2 separate regions of the Homo sapiens genome follow, and region 2 is reported to be linked to region 1. The links are microRNA targets in miRTarBase. Many come from high-throughput screens and were not tested one by one. Region 1 holds a microRNA gene; the other region holds the end of a gene's coding sequence.

The links. Region 1 holds the annotated microRNA hsa-miR-548ac (CAAAAACCGGCAAUUACUUUUG, at 1,334-1,355, opposite strand). A microRNA usually pairs through its seed, bases 2 to 8, with sites in the 3' UTR of a target mRNA and lowers its output. Matches are read on the target gene's strand: a 7mer-m8 pairs with bases 2 to 8, a 7mer-A1 pairs with bases 2 to 7 and ends in A, and an 8mer does both.
Region 2: the mRNA of CYRIA is a reported target of hsa-miR-548ac. Seed matches in the 3' UTR shown: 8mer at 2,304-2,311 and 7mer-m8 at 664-670.

What each region holds. Positions count from the first base shown.
Region 1 is chr1:116,558,705-116,562,983 of GRCh38, forward strand. MIR548AC (microRNA 548ac) reads right to left here and starts at 1,407; the gene lies at 1,320-1,407. The region is part of intron 1 of CD58 (CD58 molecule); the gene reads right to left. LOC105378925 (a long non-coding RNA gene) reads left to right here. Exons shown (of 3, transcript XR_947739.2): 3 at 1-2,483. RefSeq lists enhancers at 975-1,214, 3,814-3,963.
Region 2 is chr2:16,549,623-16,553,622 of GRCh38, forward strand. CYRIA (CYFIP related Rac1 interactor A) reads right to left here. Exons shown (of 12, transcript NM_030797.4): 12 at 1-3,377. The coding sequence ends at 3,314. Among named protein-coding and RNA genes, the nearest start is that of CYRIA, 110 kb to the right of the region's middle.

The sequences.
Region 1 (4,279 bases):
CCTAGCTCTTAGCAAGTCCAATCCAAGGAGCCCTAGGCCAGCTCAGCCTCAGTAATAATATTTAACAGTAGCAGCAGCACGAAGATTCACTGCAGGCTTACTATGTGACAAGCACTTGTTCCAAGAGCTGTTTGTGTATTAACTCATTTAATCCTCAACTCAACTCTGAGGTAGTTCTTATTATTCATTTATTTGTTCATCAAATGTTCATGGAGTCCTGCCTATGTGCCAGACACTGAAATAAGCAGGCAGGATATAGCAATGAACAAAACAGACAAAATCCCAGCCCTCTTGGAGTCTATTTTTCAGTGGAGGGAAGAACATAATAAATGAAAAAGTAAATATCTTTTATTTGGATGATGTTGGATGATGTTAAGTGCTATAGAGAAAAATAAAGCAGAGTGTGGGGGCTGAGGAGTACTGGTAAGGAAAGGAGTTGGATGGCATGGGGGGCAGTCATAAGTTGGCATCTGAGCAGAGTCCAGAAAAGCAGGGGAGCGAGCCTAAGAACATCTGGGGTGAGAGTGAGAAAGGAGTTATTTCTTGAGAACACGCCTATCAAAGTAAGGTGGTTTGCTCCGCTGGACACTTGGTTGATAGAGAAGGTCAAAGATTCCGAAGCACCAGGCTACAGATGAAGAAATGGACTGAGAGGGTCAGCTGACTGCATTCACTCAGCTAGCAAGGGGCAGAGCTGGTGTCCAGACACAGGCAGTCGGCCCCAGAGCCTGCACTGTTGGCCAGAACATCAGATGCCTTGGTTGGGGCCATTCCTCTTTTTTCCTGATCGATTCCACCCTTAGCCGGTCCCAGTTAGTGACTTCTCTTATTTCCTTAAGACAGAGATTTACTGATTTCAGCCACACCACCACCAGTTTCCCTGCCCTCATCTACTTCATACTGAAACTGCAGCCACCTGTCTCCCAACGGTTACAAACCCTCGGTCCCCAAGGCCAGAGCAAGGTTCCCGGACCTTGCTCTCAGCTGTCAATCTGCCTCCTCGATAAGTTCATCAAGAATTAAGATGTTGGTTCTCTAAATCAACTTCTTTCTGTACTTTCCTTCTAATATGATGCTAAAATAGTTTCCTTTTTAATTCTTGTTCTTGCACTTAACCTATTTCTTCTTTCTCAAGATGTTTCCCTTTAGACCTATGCAATCCATCAAAGTAGCTACCAGCTACAAGTGGCTAGTGAGAACCTGAAATATGGTTAGTTCAAATGGAGATGTGTTCTGAGTATCAAATACACACCAGAATCTGAAGACCTGGTATTAAAAAGTGGAACATAAAATCTCTTGTTAATATTTTTTTGTAGTAACTACTAGGTTAGTGCAAAAGTAATTGCCGGTTTTTGCCATTAAAAAAAAATAGCAAAAACCACAATAACTTTTGCACCAACCTAATACATGTCGAAATGAAAATATTATGGATATATTAGGTTAACTAAAATATATTATTAAAATTAATTTCACATGTTCCATATTATACTTCTATTTGAGAGCACTTCTTTAGCCTGTTGTTTCAAGACACTCACATCCCACCTTTCTCAAAGGCCACATTTGTCTTTGACTGTTCTCACCTTAGATAGGATACAGCTGAGATCCACAGTATGCTTTAGGGAATAAGGTTCTTACTAGATCGGTTAAGGCTGTGAGTGTTTTTAAATCTATTCTCCAAAGTCTGATTCAAGGTATTTCAATACAGTACTGATCATTTCACTAAAATTCCTTGAGAATCCTTGTTATTTTCTAGATACTCAGTTCATCGTTGGGAAACTCTATTGCAAGTAGTTTACAATGGCACAGCCTCATTAGTTTCTTATTAATCTGATTTTTTATTTTTTTCTGAATGTGTATGTTAAACTTCAATTTTCTTCTAATTTTTAACTGGCATAGGAAGAAAATGTTCAAGAAACTACAGACTGGTCAGCCCAGTGGAAATTCAGGCACTAATCTCAACAGACATTTTGGGGAACATTGTAAAGTAAGCAAAGTTCACTAGAACCTATAAAGTAACCAAAAAGCATTTTCCTTGGAGGCTGATGGGCAGGCACTGAAAGTTATCTCCAAAGAGGAACTGCTAAAATGTTTTCCCCTCCTTTTCTAGGGACAGTCTCTGTATCTTATAGTCACACTTTATATTCAAACCTGAACTTATCTGAGAAAAGAGAAACGGCTGCATCCTGGTTTCACTTACAACCCTGAGATGGAAGTTGAGATTTGTCATTGCAGAATTTAAGGGTCTGTGTCCTTAAGTAAAACCTTCTGGTCACCCCTCAAGTAAAGCTTCAAAAAAGCTTAGGCACTTGTGCAGAAACAGCATGAGAAGAAACCAAAAGGCAGAAAACTTACACATATAAGGGCTGATTTATGCAAAGTTTCTACTTTTAAACAGAGAAACCAATACCTACCCTCAAAGCCTGTATTTACTAAAGAAATGTTAGAGTGACAAGGAGGTCAATAAAATAAATTATTCAAATCTGGTTCTTAAAAAGAGGTTCTAAGACTATTTTAAAACTTCTGAAAGATGCCCATCAAAATTAAAACAAAAAAACATAGCAACGAATACAATGAGTGAAACTTGATTAGATCCGGGTTTTTTAACAAAAGACACTCTTGTGACAAGTGGGGAAATCTGAATACGGGTAAAAGTTAGGTGATGTTACAGGATTAGTGTTAATATTTATAGATGTTATGATGTTATTGAGATTATGCAAAAGTGTCTAGGAGTGAAATGTGGGTACCTAGAGAATGTAAATATAATAATGTTAATAATAAATATGTCAATAAATTGCCATTGTAAATTCTATGTCCCAAAGAAGCACCCCTCACCATTACAAATTATGATATTAAATACAATTTTGCATGACTGGTAATTGTGCTGACCTATATTTCCCATGTTTTAGCAGAATTTCATTGGACAATGTATACATGTTGGATATAAGAAATCAGTAGTACTCATCTTCAAAAAGTTGCTTAGTGGATCTCAGGCTAGGGATACAACAGAGCATATAAAGGAATAGGTTCTGATTCAGAGAGAATCAAAGTTCAAGTTCACTCTGCCACTTATTTGCTGTGTGAACTTGGACACATTACTGAACCTACCTAAGCTTTGTTCTCCTATTAAATGTTCCCTATGTAATAAAATCAGTGTGACAATTAAATAAAAACATCTCAAATCTGAAGCATAGCTCCTGGCACAGAGCAGGTACTTACCTCCTAGTGGCTATTATTACTTACACTCTGTTATAACACTGGGCCTAGTTTTCCTATAGGAACACACAACACTATTTTAACTTGGATTATCTTTGCTAAATAAAAAAACACAGACTGTCTAAGTCTCAACTCCAGCAAAGCACATGAACAAGTCTCACATAATAATGTGAGATAATTTCAAATGGAGAAATGCTGGACAAATACATTGTCATCTAATGTTCAGATTCAACAATCTTTACTATTAAAAAAAAACAGATCAATATAAGGAAAATTTTAAAAAATAATACATGACTTCTGCATACAAGGAACTTAAAATCTAGTTATGCAGATAGTTGGCAATAAAGGATCTGTAAAATGTCAACAACAGCAGAATAAGACAGACTCTGTTAATAATAAAATAGTTCCTACCTTTTTATTTTTTATTTTTTTGCTCTGTTACCCAGGCTGGAATGCAGTTGTGTCATCATGGCTCACTGCAGCCTCAAATTCCCAGACTCAAGCAATTGCCAGGCTCATCTCAGCCTCCTGAGTAGCTGGGACTACAGGCGTGCACCACCACACCTGGCTAACTTTTTGTAGAGATGGGGTGTATTAGTCCATTCTCGCACTGCTAATAATGACATACATGAGACTGGGTAATTTATCAAGGAAAGAGGCTCAATGGACTCACAGTTCCACATGGCCAGGGAAACCTCACAATCATGGCAGAAGGCAAAGGAGAAGCAAAGTCATGTCTTAATGGTGGCAGGCAAGAGAGAGCGTGTGCAGGGGAACTCCCCTTTATGAAACCATCAGATCTTGTGAGACTTATTCACTATCACAAGAACAGTATAGAGGAAACTGCCCTCATGATTCAATTATCTCCACCTGGCCCTGCCCTTGACACACGGGGATTATTACAATTCAAGGTGAGATTTGGGTGGGGACACAGCCAAACCATATCATTCCACCCCGGCCCCTCCCAAATCTCATGTCCTCACATTTCAAAACACAATAATGCCCTTCCAACAGTCCCTCAAAATCTTAACTTATTCCAGCATTAATCCAAAAGTCTAAATCCAAA
Region 2 (4,000 bases), not on the chromosome of region 1:
AACTGGGTTCCAAGGTTTTGAACTCTTTAAGACAAAATTCCAATGTTTATTACTAACATTTAAAAAATATTTGTAGCTGCATAGGATACAAGATTGAATGAGAAGTCTCTGAATTCTACTGCACAATTGGATCCTAAGATTGGGAGGCTTAATTTTTCTTTGGGGAAAACATGAAATTATTTTTACTTAAATGTGATGATGCATCAGTAACCTCAGTTTACCATTAAGGTCTTAATTTAATGGTGATAACTAGGAGCAAATGTTGATCAAGCATGATGTTAACTAGTAGTTAAAAGGTAATATCCAAACTTTCTTTCTGGTTGTTAATACTCCACCCCTAATGTGAAGACATCCATTTCCAGTTGTTTTTTTTTTTTGTTATTGTTTTTTTTTTTCTACTACTAATTCCTAGTGGTGCACAACGAGTTTCTGAGAACACAGTAATAACGCCAAAGTAGCAGTGCATCTGAGAAACATAATTTTTACCTCGTTGCTTTCCCAAAAATAAATATCTCAGTCATGGAAAACACTGTTTATTTGAAAACAATGAGACCTCAAATATGAAATATAGTTAACAATGACATTGACACTGTTGCTAGCACTTTCCCCTAAACCACCCGTAAGTCTTGGACGCATGTGCATGCAGCACACACACACACACACAAAAACCAAAAACAAAGCCAAAAAAAAAAAAATCCCAAACACAACAATCCATGATTGTTCAATGACTCCTGATGCCGGGAGGACAGGCTGTTAAAAGAATTTGTCTCCCACAATATCTCTGGAGTGGGCACAAAGCCCATCACCTGTTAGTGATCACAGACATTCAGTTAACCTGTCCTTCCAGTAATCAGAGACAACAATTCAGACCCTGGACTTCTCAGAATCCATGTACTGCTGAGTCTTGGCTTTGAGACAAGACAAGTCTTGGCTAAATTGAGGCAGGACAGCAGCCCCTTCCATATGTTTGGTCCCATTTGATAGAAAGTCTAATTTAGAGTTATAAATGTGCTCATCTATTTACTCTGAGCTCAATCTAATTTGACAGGTAATTCCTCACATTTTCTCCATTAGCCAGCTGAGAGTCAGCTGTGGTAGAGACACACGACATGGGTTCAAGCCCCTCATGAGCCCTGTGGTGGCTGGCAAGTCCTTTCCTTTCTTTAAGCCTTAATCTCCTCACTTGATAGAGGGGGAGAAATTGACCCAATGATGATAAATATTGTGTGGTTCTATATTTCTAGCCTAGACAATTGTTGCTCAAGTGTAACATGTGACTGCCAAATAGGATATCTCTTAAGATGAATATCTCCTAACTTTCCTCACCTGGTATGATCACATATTCTGGCTTCCTCTAAGGTTTAGAATCTGTAGGTTCAAAAAGGTCTTGAAGACCACCTAGCATATTTCTATTCTGATGAGAGAAACTCCATCCAAGCAGCTGTACTTTTTCAACTTGAAAATCTCCAAGGAAAAGAGCCTTTTCCTTCTGTTGACTAATGTTTAGATGCAGACCAGGGAATCTTTCCTGTCACTTGGCTGAACTCCCTTGCTAAAACAACATAAGACAAGTATTTTTTCCCCTTTATTGGAGGATCCAAGGGAAGATCAGCTGGTCACTAAAGTCCAGAAAGCAATGGAGTCTTATAGCTCATTCCTGGGATGTTGCAAATAATGCCAAACTCTGATGTACTCAGACTCAACTTCTAGGATTATCATTCACTAAATGCCTGGGTGACTCCTTCTAGTGGAAACAGGCAAGTAACAATATAGACCAGACTGAGGATTTACTTAGAAGGGTTGAATCCCATCCCATAGTATGTATTCACAGCCACATGGTATAAAAGGAAGAGCATGGAGTCAAGAGTGAAGCATCCTGGGTTCTAGGCCCACATGGGAGCCATCCTGTATGACCACATCCTCTGGGTTTCATTTTTCCTTAGGAGGTCAGAATCAGAGATTTTCATGATTCCATTCGAACTAAGCTCTGATGTACAGAGAGAATGACTGCAGGCTTCATAATATTGTTCATCAACAAGACAAGGTGGGGCAAATGCTTGCTGGATACTACGTACTAAGGAAGAAGGGCGGAGTCAGTCATTTTATCGGCATTAACCTTACAGGGCTCTTGAAGATTGTTTTAATTGCCCATTTTAGAGACAAGGAGGTTAAGACTCAGAAAGCTTAAACACATTTCTCAAGATCACATTATGAATCATTAGTAAGGCCAGGAGTAAATTCAGGTGCACCAGGGCTTTTATATTGCAACAAGCTAGCAACGGGGTTGGGGAAGAGCTACTTTTTAAAAACCTGGGAAATAGAAAACATGGATTTTTTTTCCCTCTAAATTCCCCTAGTTTTCTGGTAACTAATGCAGTATCCTAGACCTTTGTTCTCATATGAATGGTCTTCAGAGAACAGGGCTCTTATGAGGGGTGGCTGTGCACCCAGAACTCTGCAGGTAACTGGAAGGTTGCTAAACTCACAAATAACTTCAAAGCCAGAGCTCCATTTCCCTAATCCCTGTAGGCAGAGGGCTGAAGCAGAGAGATGGCTGTCCTGTTGCCTGAGTGCACCTCTGAGGACCTGTCTCCCAGTTCCAAGACAGCCACCTTCATCAGTCCAGTGGCAACAGCACATCTATCTATTTCTGCTGCTCTCCCACTAACTGAAAAAAATACAGGAGATTTTTTTTTCATGTGAAATTAAAGGAGAACATTAGAGGGATATAAATCCAAACAGAAAAGGAGTATGCTGATTAATAAAACACGTGCAAACAGAAAAGTTGCACGTGTGGACTGCAGTCTGAGGACAGAGAGGGGGTGTGCTGAATTCGAAACACTTGGGTTTAATTCTCCACATGCATTTTTCTTGGATTCCTCTCTTCCTCTGTCAAGATAACAGTTGTGTTTCTTGTAGCTGAGCCGACACAGGAAATCAAATATTTTGTGTTTCTATAAACTATACTTCCCAGAGAGATAACACATCTAGAATTAAAATACTACCACAAACAATTAGGAATTTTTTATCGTTATAGATGTTGTTAAAGGACTCCAGTAGCAAAGATCAAAGTCTCCGAATTTTGCCTTTGGAGAAGGGGGTTTCATTTCAGACATCAAAGGTAAGGCTCTCAAGTCAATTTATGCTCTGCTGGGTTGAGTCAGTCAGGATACAAATTAAGGTCCATATATTTCAGTGACAAGAAGGAAACGGTTATGTAAATACACAAGTATTAACATCAATCTGTATTAAATTATGTAAACATATACATCTTCTGAGGTCAGCACATAGATCCTCTTCTTTGAGCAGAGCTCTACTGAAGCATTGCTCGAATCTGTTTGGAAGTTGATTCATCGTTCAAGTGCTTTGTAGTGAACCTGGATGGAGAGAGAATGGTAGAGGTTAGCGGCAAACAGTGCTCTGTGTAAGCTTCAGCCCATCTTTACCTTCGGAAACACAATTGATATTTGGGCTTATTTCTTTAGACAAAAATCCACACTTCAATGCTCACAGTCATCTCAGATTTAATATTTGATTCTTCCTTCCAAAGGAATTTTGTATTATGGTTATTAAACCAAGTAGATATTTTACATAATCAAATAATTACACAGAGGAGATATGAGCGGTCTCATTTTCTAGGGAGGTGGATTTCACAGGATTGAGTGCAGAATCCTGACCACTGAGGCTGCCCCTGCTAACTCACAAATTTCAGAATAGAGATTTGCATAGCAACATTGCCCAGAACTGGAATGTTTATGGTTCTCCACTTTCCTGGCAATGCTTAATTAACCTCATTGCCACCACAAGGGGGCACAAATGCTGGTAAGCAAACCCACAAAAATGGTGCAATCTGCAGCCTCCCAATAGCCGGGTGTAGAAATCATTTATGCAAAAGAAGGAAAAGAGAATTAACATGTAATAAAACTTTGGCCAGGTCATGGGCGCTCCATGTTAAGTTTCGTGTTACAATAACTTTGTAAAGGTGAGGTCATTGCCTTCA